Linked DNA regions of Homo sapiens. The protein of the gene in region 2 purifies or fractionates together with the protein of the main gene of each other region. This does not show direct contact. Each region holds a gene or a part of one and is shown on either strand. Other genes may lie near its edges.

What was found. The genes of interacting proteins can lie anywhere in the genome.
Region 1: the proteins of THEM4 (region 2) and GSTT2B purify together in Homo sapiens (affinity purification with mass spectrometry, with the first as the bait; 2 studies listed by BioGRID). This does not show direct contact.

The regions. Positions count from the first base shown.
Region 1 is NC_000022.11:23,958,181-23,966,025, forward strand, and holds the start of GSTT2B (glutathione S-transferase theta-2B), read right to left. Parts: upstream 3,016-7,845; 5' UTR 2,952-3,015; coding exon 2,840-2,951; intron 2,202-2,839; coding exon 2,114-2,201; intron 522-2,113; coding exon 371-521; intron 279-370; coding exon 105-278; intron 1-104. UniProt on the Homo sapiens protein: Conjugation of reduced glutathione to a wide number of exogenous and endogenous hydrophobic electrophiles. Has a sulfatase activity.
Region 2 is NC_000001.11:151,871,499-151,878,517, reverse strand, and holds part of THEM4 (acyl-coenzyme A thioesterase THEM4), read left to right. Parts: intron 1-1,392; coding exon 1,393-1,517; intron 1,518-3,589; coding exon 3,590-3,630; 3' UTR 3,631-7,019. UniProt on the Homo sapiens protein: Has acyl-CoA thioesterase activity towards medium and long-chain (C14 to C18) fatty acyl-CoA substrates, and probably plays a role in mitochondrial fatty acid metabolism. Plays a role in the apoptotic process, possibly via its regulation of AKT1 activity.

The sequences.
Region 1 (7,845 bases), on a different chromosome or scaffold from region 2:
CTATGATTCTGGGCAAAGTTCTGGCTTTCTCCAGGCCTCAGTGTTTCTGTCTGCCTCATGGGTGTGACACGAAGAGGGACACTGCCCACAGGCTGAGCTCACACCTGCATCAGCTCCTCCAGGGCCATGAGATCAGCCAGTGTCACCTGCTGGCCAGCGAGGAAGGGCCTGTCCCCCAGGAACTTGTCCTCCAGCCATTGCAGGGCCTGGTCCATGGCAGTCCTGTTGCGTTCCACCTTCTCCTCGGGCACCTGGACCCCAATGAGTGGCCCCAACACCTGATGGGGGCAGAGAGTGGGTCAGTCTATGGCCCCGGCCTACTGCCAACTACTCCCTGATGGCCAATCACTCTCCAGATGGCTCTCCTCACCTGGACCCACAGGGGTATACCAAAGGTGCCACGGATGCAGTCGGCATGCCAGCCCAGGTACTCATGAACACGGGCACGAGCCTGCAGGTCAGATGGATACCAGTGGTCCGGCGTCTGGTACTTACAGCTCAGGTAAATCAGGATGGCCGAGCTGGGAACAAATGGGCAGTGGCTATAAGGACACTGGCACCAGGCATTTACCCCTAACTGCTCCCATCTGCCAGTGGGGCCCGGGGGCTTCTCTGCATTTGAAGGACTGCCCTCCAGCCTCGCCCTCCATCTCCAGCTCCCCAACACCACCCCCTCCTCCTACGAGTCTCCTCCTGTCTTTGTTGCCTTGGGCACCGACTCTTGGCTGGACCTTCTGCTTTGCATTTTGAGAACCTCATCTCTGTGATATGCCAGCAGCCGCCCTGTGAGGTAGACACTCCTGTTAGCCTTTTAGCACAAGAGAAAACTCAAGGTCAGAATGGTCAAGTGACTTGTCCGAGGCGGTGCAGCTCAGAATAGGCTCCCTGGACCCCTGGAACCCTGCATGGGGCTGGCACACAGTGGATGCTCCGTGGAGTCCCTTGCATGTCCACGCGCTTGGGTCAGGGATCACGAGGGGAGGAATGTCTTTGGCCCCCGTCTGACAGGCCCCCAGCCATCACTTCTGCAGCCACCTGACCTCTTGTCCTTTTCCTGCCCAGCAGCTGGACCTCACCATGAGCTGTGCCCTTGGGCCATGGCATTGGCCTCTAGGCCCGGCCTGGGTAGATTGGGTAGTCTGCAACAAGTCACTAGAGGCTCTTTTCAGCTAGCATTTGTTGAACAAATGCGCAACAGTGGAAAAATGTTCCCTTGTCTTCTCTTCTAATACCCTTCAGTCTGGGAGTGGAGAGGCCCTGCGGCTCAGAAAAGGCTGGAAGATGAGAGGTGGGGGGACATGTTCTGTCAGCCCCTGCTCATCCCGGTCACACCCCAAGCTGTACCTTCTCCCCAGATACCTCTCCTTTCTTTCTTTCCTTTTTTTTTGAGACGGAGTCTCCCTCTGTCGCCCAGGCTGGAGTGGGCTCCCTCTGTCACCCAGGCTGGAGTGCAGTGGTGCTATCTCTGCTCATTGCAAGCTCCGCCTCCTGGGTTCACGCCATTCTCCTGCCTCAGCCTCCCCAGTAGCTGGGACTACAGGCGGCCGCCACCACGCCCTGCTAATGTTTTGTATTTTTAGTAGAGACAGGGTTTCACCGTGTTACCCAGGATGGTCTCGATCTCCTGACCTCGTGATCCGCCCACCTCGGCCTCCCAAAGTGCTGGGATTACAGGCGTAAACCACCGCGCCCGGCCTTTTTGAGACGGAGTCTAGCTCTGTCGCCCAGGCTGGAGTGCAGTGGCGCGATCTCAGCACACTGCAAGCTCCGCTTCCTGGGTTCACACCATTCTCCTGCCTCAGCCTCCAGAGTAGCTGGGACTACAGACGCCCGCCACCACGCCCGGTTAATTTTTTTTCCATTTTTAGTAGAGACGGTGTTTCACGGTGTTAGCCAGGATGGTCTCGGTCTCCTGACCTCGTGATCCGCCCGCCTTGGCCTCCCGAAGTGCCGGGATGACAGGCGTGAGCCACCGCGCCCGGCCAGATCCCTCGCCTTTCCCCTCCCTCGCTGCCCCATGGGGTATGGGAGGGCCACTGGGGCCCGGGGCCAGTGGGGAGAGCCAAGGTCACATGGGCTCCGGATGCGGTGAGGGGTGAGGGAAGGAGGGCACCTTTCGGTCAAGATGAAATCACCATCCTTGAGCGTCGGCAGTTTCCCCAGGCTGTTGATCTGCAAGAACTCCTTGCTCTTGTGCTGCCCTGAAGAGGAAGAAGTCAGAAAAGGTCTTCAGAATAAAAACGCTGCACCTCTACACCCTCCCTCCTCCTCCCCAAGCGGAGCCCCACAGCCCTGAGAAACAGCAAGGTCTGGGACTAGAGGCCTGGATCAGCCTCACTCCCTGGCTGGGCCTCCCTGCCCTGCCACATTCCGGGGCAGCTGGGGGGCTTTGGTGGGTGGGGCCAGGTGCAGCAGGTGGATAAAGAGAAGTTTTCTAGCCGGACTCTGGTGGGCCAGGGGAGGGGAGGCAAACTGGGGTGGCTCATCTCTTCCCATCTCTTAATTCTCACAACAGCATGTCCTTCTTCCCAAGGTCTTCTGGGCTTTGTGAATTTATATGCGTGCATTCCACGCAAGAACTCTGTCAACTCCATTCAGTATTTTCTTTCCATCCCTACAGAGCAGAAGGTAACATTATCCTCCTTTTCAGAAGGCAAGCTAAGGTTCAGAGAGGCTGTGATCCCTCCAAGGCCACTCAGTCCACAGCATTCTCTGGTGGCAGACGCTGCAGGAGGAGGTGAGGGGGCTGTGCGGGCGGCGAGACGCTCAGGGCAGAGCAGGGCGGGGGCCTGGGGGTGCACTGGGTTTGTGGACACGCGGGGAAACGGGCTGGGCCCACCTTTGACCAAATCCACGGTGCGCAGCTCTAAGGGGATGCCATTCTTCTTGGCGAAGATGTAGACGGCGCGGCTGGGCTGGGACACCAGGTCAAGAAACAGCTCTAGGCCCATGGCGGGGGCGGCAAGGACAGCGGGGATGGCAGTGAAGGCGCTGAGCGCGGTGTGGGCAGCAGCTGTGGCAGGATCCCGGCGCGCCGGGAAATAGGGGATCAGGCCCCACCCCCTGGGGACAGCACCCAATTGGAGCGCACCACCCCCGGACCCGCCTCGCCCCTTCGGTTCCTGTCCAGTCCTGCCGGCCAAGACTCCACCACCAGATCCGTGCGTCCCTACAGGGAGGGCGGTCGCTATGAACGCACAGCTGGGAGGGTGGAGTTGGAGCTGGGGACCCTCGACTGGCAGGGAGGACGCGGATGCAGGGGGCCGACTGCAAGGGGAAGGGGAACCGGCTGGACAGGGAGAAGCAGGTCTGCTTTTCGGGATCCCGGTGCCAGGGACCCTGCCCAGTTCCAGGCGTCGCCCTGACCCAGAAACGACTGGGCGCCGCCGTCCTGGAAAGGCCCCAGCGCACGGACATCTGAGGGTTCGTTCAGAGCTCTGTTTCTCGGCGCTGCATGGTGGCGGAAGGGAGGGAGCGAATGGGATCCCCTAAAAGGGATCTTAGAGTTTCACCCAGTGGGATGTGACACTTGCAGGTGTCCCAAACTGGTGGGAACCTTGACTGGAAGGCTGGGGTTAAGGATGAACTTTCTGCCGTCCAGACTGTCCCCTGCAGAGCAGCTGCTGCCAGACAGCGGGAGCTGCCAGACAGCGGGAGCTCCCACTTCGTGCACAGGATGGGGGCAGGGAGCCCGCAGCCGCGGGAGGCAGGAATGACTGTCCGGGAACCTCCTTTCTTCTCCCTGAATCCCAGCCCTGGCATCTCACCAGGGGGCACAGTGATGGTCCAGGGCTGGGCCCGGGACTCTAGCTGAATCTTTCAGAGTATCCCATCCCTCTGGCCAGTGGCCCAAGCGAGTGAACCAGAATGCTTCCTTGGGAGTTTTGAAACTGGAACTGGAGAGAGGAGCTCCCTATGGGGAGGTAAACGGGAGCTGGGGCCACCTGTAGTGACATTTCCTGAGTTCGAGGAGTAGACGAGACTGAGAGAGAAAAGCTGACTCAGAGAAAGGGAGTGATAACAGGGCATGCTGGCCCACACCTGCAATCCCAGTTACTCTCACGGGATCTGTTTCTCTGATGTCTGGGTATGAAAGGACTTTCTAAGCCTCAGAACAGTGGGAGAACTCAACAAAGAAAAAACCAATACATATACAAGGTTACTTTGTGGAGGAAAAAATGGATTAACCTTAAGCAAAAAACTGGGAAGGATCTCGGTAAAAGATACGTCAGAAGGAAGTAATGTCCTTTAAGATGTTCTTAGAAACCCATCAGACAGGTAGGGTGTGGTGGTTCACGCCTGTAATCCCTGTACTTTGGGAGGCAGAGATGGGCGGATCAGTTGAGGTCAGGAGTTTGAGACCAGCCTGGGCAACACGGTGAAGCCCCGTCTCTACTAAAAATACAAAAATTAGCTGGGTGCGGTGGCACACTCGGGAGGCTGAGACAGGAGAATCACTTGAACCTTGGAGGCAGAGGTTTCAGTGAGCTGAGATCATACCACTGCACTCCAGCCGGGCCACTGAGCGAGACTGTCTCAAAACAAACAAACGAACAAACAAAAAGAAGAGAAACTCATCAGACGAAGACACAGGAAAAAAATGAGCGAAGGAAATCAGCAGAGGTTTCATTGAAGGACAAAGAGAAATGGTCAATACATGGATGAAAACATGTTTAACTTCAGTAATAATCAAGGAAGCACACACCAACACAACATGCACATACTGTTTTTATTTATCAAAGGCACACATATTTTTGAAATGAGTACTCCTAATTAATATGTACAGAGCACTTACCCAGTGCCCAGCACAGGGGTGGCACCCTGTGTGTGAGACAGCATGAAACAGGTAGACACGCGCCCTGCTGAAAGTAAGGGACCGCCTCTCTGGAGGATCCATCGGGCAATAAGGAGGTTTCCACACCTTAACTGTGTCTGCCTTGACCTCTGGGGCCTGGGAGCAGAGCCCCCTCCAGCTGGTGGGGAAGGAAGCGTGGTGTGTTTGAGGACAGAATGGAGAGAAGTTGAGTAGAGCAAGTGTAGACTCTTCCTATCCAAAGTGTGGTCAATGGACTGGGAGTATCAGCATCACCAGGGAGCTTGTTGGAAATGCAGAGGCTCAGGCCCCACTCTGACCTTACTGATTGGGAGCATAAACTGTAACCAGATTCCAGGGAGGATTCATACACACATTCCCGTTTGATAAGTGGGGGGTAGTAGGAGGTGAGGTGAAAAGTGGGGAGGGGATGGCTACCGCACTGGAGAAGGCTGGCTTTGTGTTGAGGCCTTTCTCATGAGGGCAGTGGGGAGCCATGGAAGGCTTTATGCAAGAGAGGGTACGGGCAGATTGAGATTACAGAAGGATCCCACTGGTTGCCTTGTGTGAGGACCCAGGGAGAAGGGGGAGGCTGTCCCTGTTTGAGTAGGAGATGAGAGCTACTGGTGGCTATGAGTGGAAAGAAGTGAGCAGAGGTGAGCAGAAATCCCAAGGACTGGTGATGATAGGATGATGGTGGGAACCAGGATGGGCTTTGGGCAGACCCTGACCCCTCTCTCTGCCTGTCGGCCCACCAGATAATAATCCCTGTGTTCCTGGGCGAGTCAGTGCCACCCGAGATGTTGGCGGCCACTTTGGCTGAGCTGGACGGATGCTTGCAGCTGCTCGAGGACAAGTTCCTGCGGGACCAGGCCTTCCTTACTGGGCCCCGTATCTCTGTGGCTGGCTTGGTGGCAATCACGGAGCTGAGGCATGAGAGTGCCATGGGGTGCGGTGGCCCGCTGGGCAGTGGTGTATCCGGGAAGGGAGCTGACATCCCAGCTCATGTTGTCTTTTCTGGCTGTGGGACCCTGTGTGAGTCACTTCTCCTTCTGAGCCTCAGTGTCCTCATCTATAAAATGGGGCTTTACAAACCCCTCACCGCAGCTATATTAAGAGGCTTCCAAGTGTCCCCAGGGAGGGGGACATCCTAGCCCATCACACACATGGTGGAGGAGGGAAAATCCAATCAGAGAACCCCTAAAGCAGGTCATGCTGCCTTACACTTGGCTATGCCCAGCCCCTCCGCTGACTCTGTCTTCCCCTAGCCCATCAGTGCTGGCTGCTGAGTCTTTGAAAGCGGACCCACGGTGGCAGCATGGTGCCCAACACGTGGAGGCTGCAGTGCGGGAGGACTTCTTCCAGGAGGCCCTCCCAGCTGTCCTGAAGGCCAAGGACCTGCCTCCAGTAGAACCTGCTGTTAAAGAGAATCTGAAGACCTTAATGCAGCTTTTCTTGCTGTGAGTGCGTGTCCCACACTTGCTGAGCCACTGAGGGGATGCTGTGTTGGTAGAATAAAGACATGGAGCTGTCCGTCTCCTTGGTTGAAGAGAAGACATATCTGCAAAGGCTCTGGTCCACAGTTCCTCCAGATATCATGCCTGCATTCCTTTTGTCTCCTACCCCATTCCATTCTAGCTTCCATGTGACCTCTGAAAAGAGCTTGGGCAAACGCTTACTTGACCCTGACCTTCTGTGTGGAACTTTGTATGGTTCCTCACTGCCCAGAAGCTAAAGTACAAGTCATTGAACTTTGCATTCAAGGCCTTGCTCCCACTCCTCCAGGTGGCCCCTTCTGCCTGCACACTCCTAACCCCTCTCTGGGCTCCCACCTTGGCCTCTTGGCCTCCGCTCATGCTGTTCCCTCCTCATCTTCGCCTGGTGCCCTTCCTGGTCTTTTGGCATTTGGCACCCTGTCTCTTCTCCAGGGAGACTTCCCTGACCTCCCCAGCCCCAGTCCAGGTCAGGCGACCTCTCTGGGCTCCTCAGCCCCAGTGTTTCCTTGCGGGGGATACCCCCGGACTGAGCATGTATCATCGATGAGGGGTGACCTGGTGGAAAGATGTCTGAATCAGGATCAGCCTTGGTCTCCTCGGTCTCTCTCCTCACTGTGGGGCGATGTTGTGTTCCACAAGTGGGGTGCAGGGCTGGTTCATGAACCTCCTTGCAGGAAGGGAAGTCCCTGGTTATTTCCTGGCCCTCTCCCATGCCTCCTCATAACCTTGACCACAGTCTTCTCTACACCCCACTCCCGGACCACTGGCTTGTCCATGCCCCACACCTGGTCCCAGACTTGCCACCTGTCCCTGCCCTCTCCCCTTAGGACTGTCATATTTACCTGTCGTGTGTCTCAGACCTTCTGATATCTGAGTCATCTAATAAACAAACTGCTAATAGGACAAGATCATGACAGACAGAGACTCTGTCGGCCTTTCAGTGGAGGCTCCTTTAAGTATGCACACTTATAGAGAATTTTATACACGTAGTTGAAATTGTACATATAAACTTGCAAATTTTTTCTTTCTTTTTTGTGGGGGAGGGGGGAGCCTGGGTCTCACTCTGTCATCTAGGGTGGAGTGCAGTGGCACAGTCATAGCTCCCTGCAGCCTAGATCTCCTGCGCTCAAGCAATCCTCCTGCCTCAGCCGCCCAGGTAGCTAGGACTACAGGCACACACCACAGCACCCAGATTTCTTTCTTTTTTTTTTTTTTTTGTAGAAAATAAAGAAGAGAATCTTGCTATGTTGCCTAGCCTGATCTTTAACTCCTGGGCTCAAGCAATCCTCCCTTCTTAGCCTCCCAAAGTGCTGAGATTACAGGTGTGAGCCACATTGCTCGACCACAACTTCAATCATATTTGTAATGTACAATTCAAGTGATTTTGCCACACTGACCACACTCATGTTTAAGCCACGCCAACAGAGTTCCATGTTTTCTGATGTTTTTTCGAGATGGAGTCTCGCTCTGTCACCCAGGCTGGAGTGCAATGGCGCGATCTCGGCTCACTGCAACCTCCACCTCCCCGGTTCAAGC
Region 2 (7,019 bases):
GTCATTAGGAATCTCAGCCACATTTTCTTCTAGATCTGCTTCATCCTTACGTAGCCTTTCCCAGTGTAGTGGCACAATGGCCACCAGCCAGGCCAGCCAGGCTTATGTCTTGTAAGCCTAGCGCCTCAGAGAAAAAGAACCCAGCCCCAAGGGCTACAGCACAAGTTCCAGGATTGACTATTTCAGCCTGTGCCCACCCCCACAACTGGTCACTATGTGTGTGTGGAGTGGAGGGATCATTATTCAATGCCAGTCAACCTACATGGGCTAAGAATGAGGGAGAGGTGGTTCCCTGACAAAAGGGGTACATGAGTATATCAAAGAGAGAGATATGAAGAGAATGAAGGGAGGGTAGGGGATGGATAAATGAAGAGAGTCATGTTAGTAGAAAAGGGAGTTGCTGGGCAGGCGAGAACACCTAATGTCCCCTGGGTCTTAGTAAATGTTGAATTGACTCAACAAAAGAGCAAAGGAAAAGCTAATGGGAGTGGAAGTATTAAAAGTTCATTGAAAGGAAAACTGGGCAGAGAGATCATCACAGTGATAACTTCCTTTCTACCTGGGGTAGTTCCATCATCTGCTTGGTAGTACCATAGGAGCACGAAACACGTTTCCGTGCTCTACCTTCTGTTTCAACCAACTGAAATTTCACTTTTAAAGAGATATCCTTTCATTGTGATATGTTTCTCCAGGATTCCCAGAAACGTCTGTAGCCACTAGTCACATGTAGCTATTTAAAGTTAAGTATAAATTAATTCAAATTAAATAAATTTAAGGACTCAACTTCTCAGTTATGCTAGCCACATTTCAAGTGCTCATTAGGCACATGTGGCTACCAGGTTGGACAGCTCAGATATGGAACATTTGTATCATCACAGAAAGTTCTATTGGACAGTACTGACTTAGAGCAGTAAGCTGTTATCAGCAATTTGTTGTTATTAGGTGTCTTTCTAGTGACCATTACTCAGAATTGAATGAGAAATGTTGATTATGACAGAAGAAATGAGAGAAGCTGCCTGGGACCATCTGTTGGCCCTATTTTCACTTCTTTAAAGCATTTCAGCTCCCTTAGGACTTTGCAGTGGATCTCCAGATGGGATAGTCTCTGCCATCACAGAGCTGGAATTCCTGATGATCCCTTTGAAACAAGCCCAGAGAGACATCCAGGGACTGTAGCCCAGGAGCCACCTGAGAGCAGTGGTGCTTGGGAGAGGGGGAGCTTGAGAGGCTGTTGGTGTCAGAGTCCTTGAGGAATGTATTGTCTAAGGCAGTCAGTGCTCATTGTTGTCAGGTGTCATAAATTTCTATCCCTTGTCATGTACTTGATCATCTTTTAATGTTATATAAGTCAGATAAAAACTGATTTTTTTCCTTTTTCATTTTATTCTGCAGACCTATCCCTCTTTGTTCTGTTGTTATGATAAATAGCCAACTTGATAAAGTTGAAGGAAGGAAATTTTTTGTTTCCTGTAATGTTCAGAGTGTTGATGAGAAGACCCTATACTCAGAGGCGACAAGTAAGAAGCTGGTCTTATCTCTTTCTTGGGGTTTAGTTGGGTTGGGTTGGGAGTTTTGGTTGGTTGGTTGGTTGGTTGATTTGGGTTTTGTGGGGGTCAGGGGGGTGTTTTGGTTTGGTTTGGTTTTTTGCCCTGGTATTATAACCCATACATGCCAAAAAATTCTTAATTCCCTGTCATACAAAGAACAAGTTAAAGATATTCTTATACATTGCTAGTAAAGGGCAAGTTGCCAACAGCTATCAAAATTACAGCCCAATGCATAAGCTCATGCCTGTAGTCCCCGCACTTTGGTAGGCTAAGGTGGGAGGATCACTTGAGCCCAGGAGTTCGAGACCAGCCTTGGCAACATGGCAAGACCCCATCTCTACAAAAAATACAAAAAATTAGCGGGGCATGGTAGTGTGCGCCTGTAGTCCCAGCTACTTGGGAGGCTGAGATGGGAGGCTCCCTTGAACCCAGGAGACAGAGGTTGCAGTGAGCTGAGATCGCACCTCTGCACTCCAGCCTGGGTGACAGAGCCAGACCCTGTCTCAAAAAAAAAAAAAAAATTTACAAAGTGATATGCCCTTTGACCCACCTCCAGGACTTTATCTCACAGGTATAATAACTGCAAAATTATAATGTGTTAGATTGCTATCGGGTTCCAGTGATTGTGTCACTCATGCAACATTATTTGCAATAGCAAGAAAAATGGCAAAACGTAGCAAACATAGCTATCCATCAATAGGAGACTGGTTAAAGAACTACAGCTCACCTATGAACTATATTGTATGTGTGTGCCATTAAAAAATGGTGAAATATTGTGATACCATAAATAAGAAAAATATGTCTATATTTATGTGTGTGTAGACTGTCTCAGGAAAGTCACACACATGACCTGTTACTTCCCTGGAGTACTGAGGTTCATCCATGTTGTTGGCTGTGTTCACTTGTTTGTACCACTGTGTAATACTCCATATGTGACTGTCCCACAATGAATGTCTCTCTTCCAGTGACAGGCCTCTGACTATTACAAATGGGGCTGCTATAAACATTCTTGTTCATGTCTCCTGGTGGTGTGCATGGGCAAGAGCTTGGCATATACTTAGGAACAGAATTTCTGGGTGGTAGAGTATTGTGAGTATTCAGCTTTACAGAGGAATGCAAAATTGTTTTCTAAGCCTGTACCAAATTAAACTCCCACCAGCAATATATGAGATTCTTTAGATTCCCATCTTCTCTAGCAATTAGTGAAGTCAGACTTCATGATTTTTGCCAGTCAAATGACTATAAAATGACTTCTCGGTGTGATCTTGATTTGCATTTCTCTGATTACCTGTGTGGTTGAGTGTCTCTTCATATGTTTATTGACCATATTTTTTCCCATTCTGTGAAATTTTTGTTTGTTCAGCTTTTTTTCCATTTGTTCTCATTTTCTTACTGATTTATAGATGTTCTTTATATATTTTCTATTAGAACAATTTTTTGTTGGATATATAAGTTGCACATACCTCCTTACAGTGTGTAAGTTGTCTTTTATTTGCTTTAAGGTATCTTCTTTATGAACAGAAATTTTTAATGTCAATTTAGTTGCATTTATTACATTTTTCCCTTTATGGCTAATTTTTTTGTATCTTGTTTAAGAAATTTATTTTTCCTCTTAAGTATGAAGCATTTGCAGGAATGATGGATTTAAGGAGCAGGTGGAAGATAATAACTTAAATCCACAGTCAATTTAAGAACTCCATTCCAGGCTGTGGTTTGTACTTCCTGTCTCACTAAACCTTTCAATATCATAAAGGTGCCAGATGGCTCACTTGTAATTTTAGTTCTTTTCATTTCTAATGGAAGTAGTGAGGAACCATGAAATGGCCAAGTGGTGAGGACCTGGTTACCCAGGGAGAAGTAATACAGTATTGTGATAGTCAAAAGCTGATTCTTAATTTGGCTGAAAAATGAGAGTGGACAGATAGACTGAAGCTACAAATGTGAATCAAATCCTTCTTTTGTATATGTCTTTCTATTTAGAGTAGTCCATCAAATTGAAGTCAGTTGACATATAATCATCTGCTGTTATTTTGTTTGTTTAGGCTTATTTATAAAGCTGAATCCTGCTAAAAGTCTGACATAAAGAGCTGCTGGTGAACTCCATCTCATTCTCGCCCCTCCAGAAGAAGCAGTTGTCCCCCAAATACTCTGCTCCCTCACTGCTGAATCCCTGTAGGGAGAAGCCTGCCAACAGTGACCTTCCGAAACAGCCTTCTGAATACAAAGAGGATTCAGTTTCCATCTTCTCAACTTTTTAACACAGAAATACTTCCTGCGAGCATATCGACAACTCTCGGGCCAGGCGCTGTGGCTCACACCTATAATCCCAGCACTTTAGGAGGCCGAGGCAGGCGGATTGCCTGAGCTCAGGAGTTCAAGATCAGTCTGGGCAACACGATGAAACTCCGTCTCTACTAAAATACAAAAAATTATCCAGGCATGGTGGCGTACGCCTGTAGTCCCAGCTACTCAGGAGGCTGAGGCAGGAGAATTGCTTGAACCCAGGAGGAAGAGGTTGCAGTGAGCCAAGATCATGCCACATCACTCCAACCTGGGCAACAGAACAAGAACCCATCTCAAACAAACAAACAAACAAAAAAAAAAAACTCTTGTCTCCTTAGGATATGTTACCTGCTCCACTGCAGACTAGAGAAATAAATGTGTATTGAACCTTTTACTGCAAACTTGAAAATGCTAGAAAACCAAGCATGAAGAATAAATACATGGTGGGAAACACACAGGCATGTGCATATGCATATACATTGTAAGTTAGTAAGTTAGAAAGCTAGCTTTGTTGTATCTGAACACATGAATCTTTTTTGGTCAGTGTAGGAAGCACAGCCAGATCCTATAGGAATGAATACCTCAAATCTGTTGTCTGAGATTCTAGAGATTAAACCACTGTGCCATTTTTAACCCAGGCTGTACTGTTGTTTCTTACCAACAGCATAGGTTTTCATCACTGGAAGGAGCCTGTGTTCATTTCCTAGGGCTGCTGTAGCAAAGTAGTACAAACTGGATTGTTTAAACCAACAAAAACTCATTGTCTCTCAGTTCTGGAGGCCAGAAGTTCAAAATCAAGGTGTTGACCAAGGCCATTCTCCTGAAAGTGCTAGGGAAGGAGCTGTCCACGCCTCCCTCCTGGCTTCTGGGAGCCTCAGGTGTTCCTTGGCTTCTAGATGCATCATTCCAGTCCTCCATCTTCACATGGCATTCCCTCTGTGTGTCTCCACAGTGTCTTCCCTCTGTGCAGATCTATCTCTGTGTCCAAGTCTCCTCTTTTTATAAGGAAACCAGTCATAATGGACCCACCTGAATGACCTCATTTTAACTTGATTACCTCTGTAAAAAATGTATTTCCAAATAAAGTGACCTTATGAGGTATTGGAGATTAGGACCACAACATACCTTTTTTGGGAGGACACAATTCAACCTGTAAAAGAGCCTCAACAAAACTAAAAAATGAACGGAGAGTTGAAGGGGGCCAGCCCCTCCACACCTGTGGGTGTTTCTCATCAGGTGGGATGAGAGACTGAGAAAAGAAATAAGGCACAGAGACAAAGTATAAAGAAAGAACCCTGGGCCCAGGGGACCGGTGCTCAGCATACAGAGGACCCGCACCGGCCCCAGTCTCAGCTCTCTCAGTATTTATTGATTACTGTTTTCACTATCTCGGCAAGGGGAATGCAGCAGGAGAACAGGGTGATAGTGGGGAGAAGGTCAGCAGGAAAATCTGTGAGCAAAGGAATCTGTGTTACAAATAAGTTCAAGGGAAGGTACTATGCCCAGATGTGTACGTAGGCCAGATTTATGCTTCTCTCCACCCAAACATCTCAGTGTAGCAAAGAGTAACAGCAGCATTGCCGCCAGCGTATCTTGGCTCCAGCCACAGGGTGGTTTTCTCCTATCTCAGAATGGAACGAACATAGGATCGGGTTTTACACCAAGACATGCTGTTCCCAGGGGCATGCAGGAGACAGAGGCCTTCCTCATCTCAACCACAAGAGGCCTTCCTCTTTTACTAATCCCCCTCAGCACAGACCCTTTGCGGGTGTCGGGCTGGGGGATGGTCAGGTCTTTCCCTTCCCGGGAGGCCATATCTCAGGCTGTCTCAGTGGGGGGAAACCTTGGACAATACCCAGGCTTTCTTGGGCAGAGGTCCCTGCGGCTTTCCACAGTGCATTTTGCCCCTGGTTAATTGAGAATGGAGAATGGCGATGACTTTTACCAAGCATACTGCCTGTAAACATACTGTTAATGAGGCACGTCCTGCACAGTCCTAGATCCCTTAAACCTTGATTCCATACAGCACATGTTTCTGTAAGCACAGGGTTGGGGCTAAAGTTACAGATTAACAGCATCTCAAGGCAAAGCAATTTTCTTAGAACAGATCAAAATGGAATTTCTCATGTCTTCCTTTCTACATAGACACAGTAACAGTCTGATCTCTCTTTTCCCTACAGAGACTAATGTTCTGGAAAATATATTCTGCTTCCTAGTGCAGGCAATAGATTATTTGGGCTTCCATTTCTTTCCTTTCTTTCCCCATATTAGAAATTTAAGCTGAACCATATGAAATCACTATTTCGAAGAACAGAATGGTCAAATATTGACAATTTCCTATGGTTCAACCTAATAACTTAGGGACAGCCTTGTGGTACCCTACCCAGTCATCCTTCCACAGCCAAAAGATCAGCTGGAGCCCTCCATTGCCAGAGCTGACTGACCTGGGATGGCCAAGCCAGAGGAAGACCCACATCCTGGAAGCCCTGTCTCTAGTGCCCAACTCCAGTTCTCAAGTTGCAAGGGCCCAGCAGACATGGGGGCACTGCAGGGGTGAAGCTGGCAGTTCCTTCTCCCAGAAATTCTGAGAGAGCCTGGGAAAGTGCCCCAGGAGATGGCTGGGCTCACAGCTCTACAAGTTACAGGTCTGGCAATGGCCACCCTCTATTCCCAGTCTTCCAACAAATCCTGAAACTTAAGAGAGTGGACTCTTACAATAATTATATTTCACATGTTAAAAAATATGACTCCGAAGGAATAAGCCAGCGCTGCTCATTTAGCTAGTTTCACTTAACTAGTTGGGAGGAAGTTTAGACAATGAAGGTACTGTACTCTCATCGTTAGATTTCTCTGGCAGGCTTGCAGAACTGCTATGGCACACCAGACCTCCAGCCAAGTGAAAGAACCTAACTGAAAGAGTGCCAAATGACCAGGTTTTCTTCATGTTAAGTATGCCTGCCTCCCTTCGTATCCACTTTTTTCCCTTTACAGTTTCATTTCTTACACTGGTTTGCTCACATCCAGGTTAGATGCTGCACAAGATCAACTAAGGAAAAAGCTCAGTCACTGTTAACATAGGGTTCCCCATAGCCAGTGAGGGAAAAATGGCTTCCCTGCTTTGCAGCAGACTATTCCTAGCCTTCACCATGCCCTGGCACTCTTGCTTTCCTCAGGTTGTATTTTGACAAG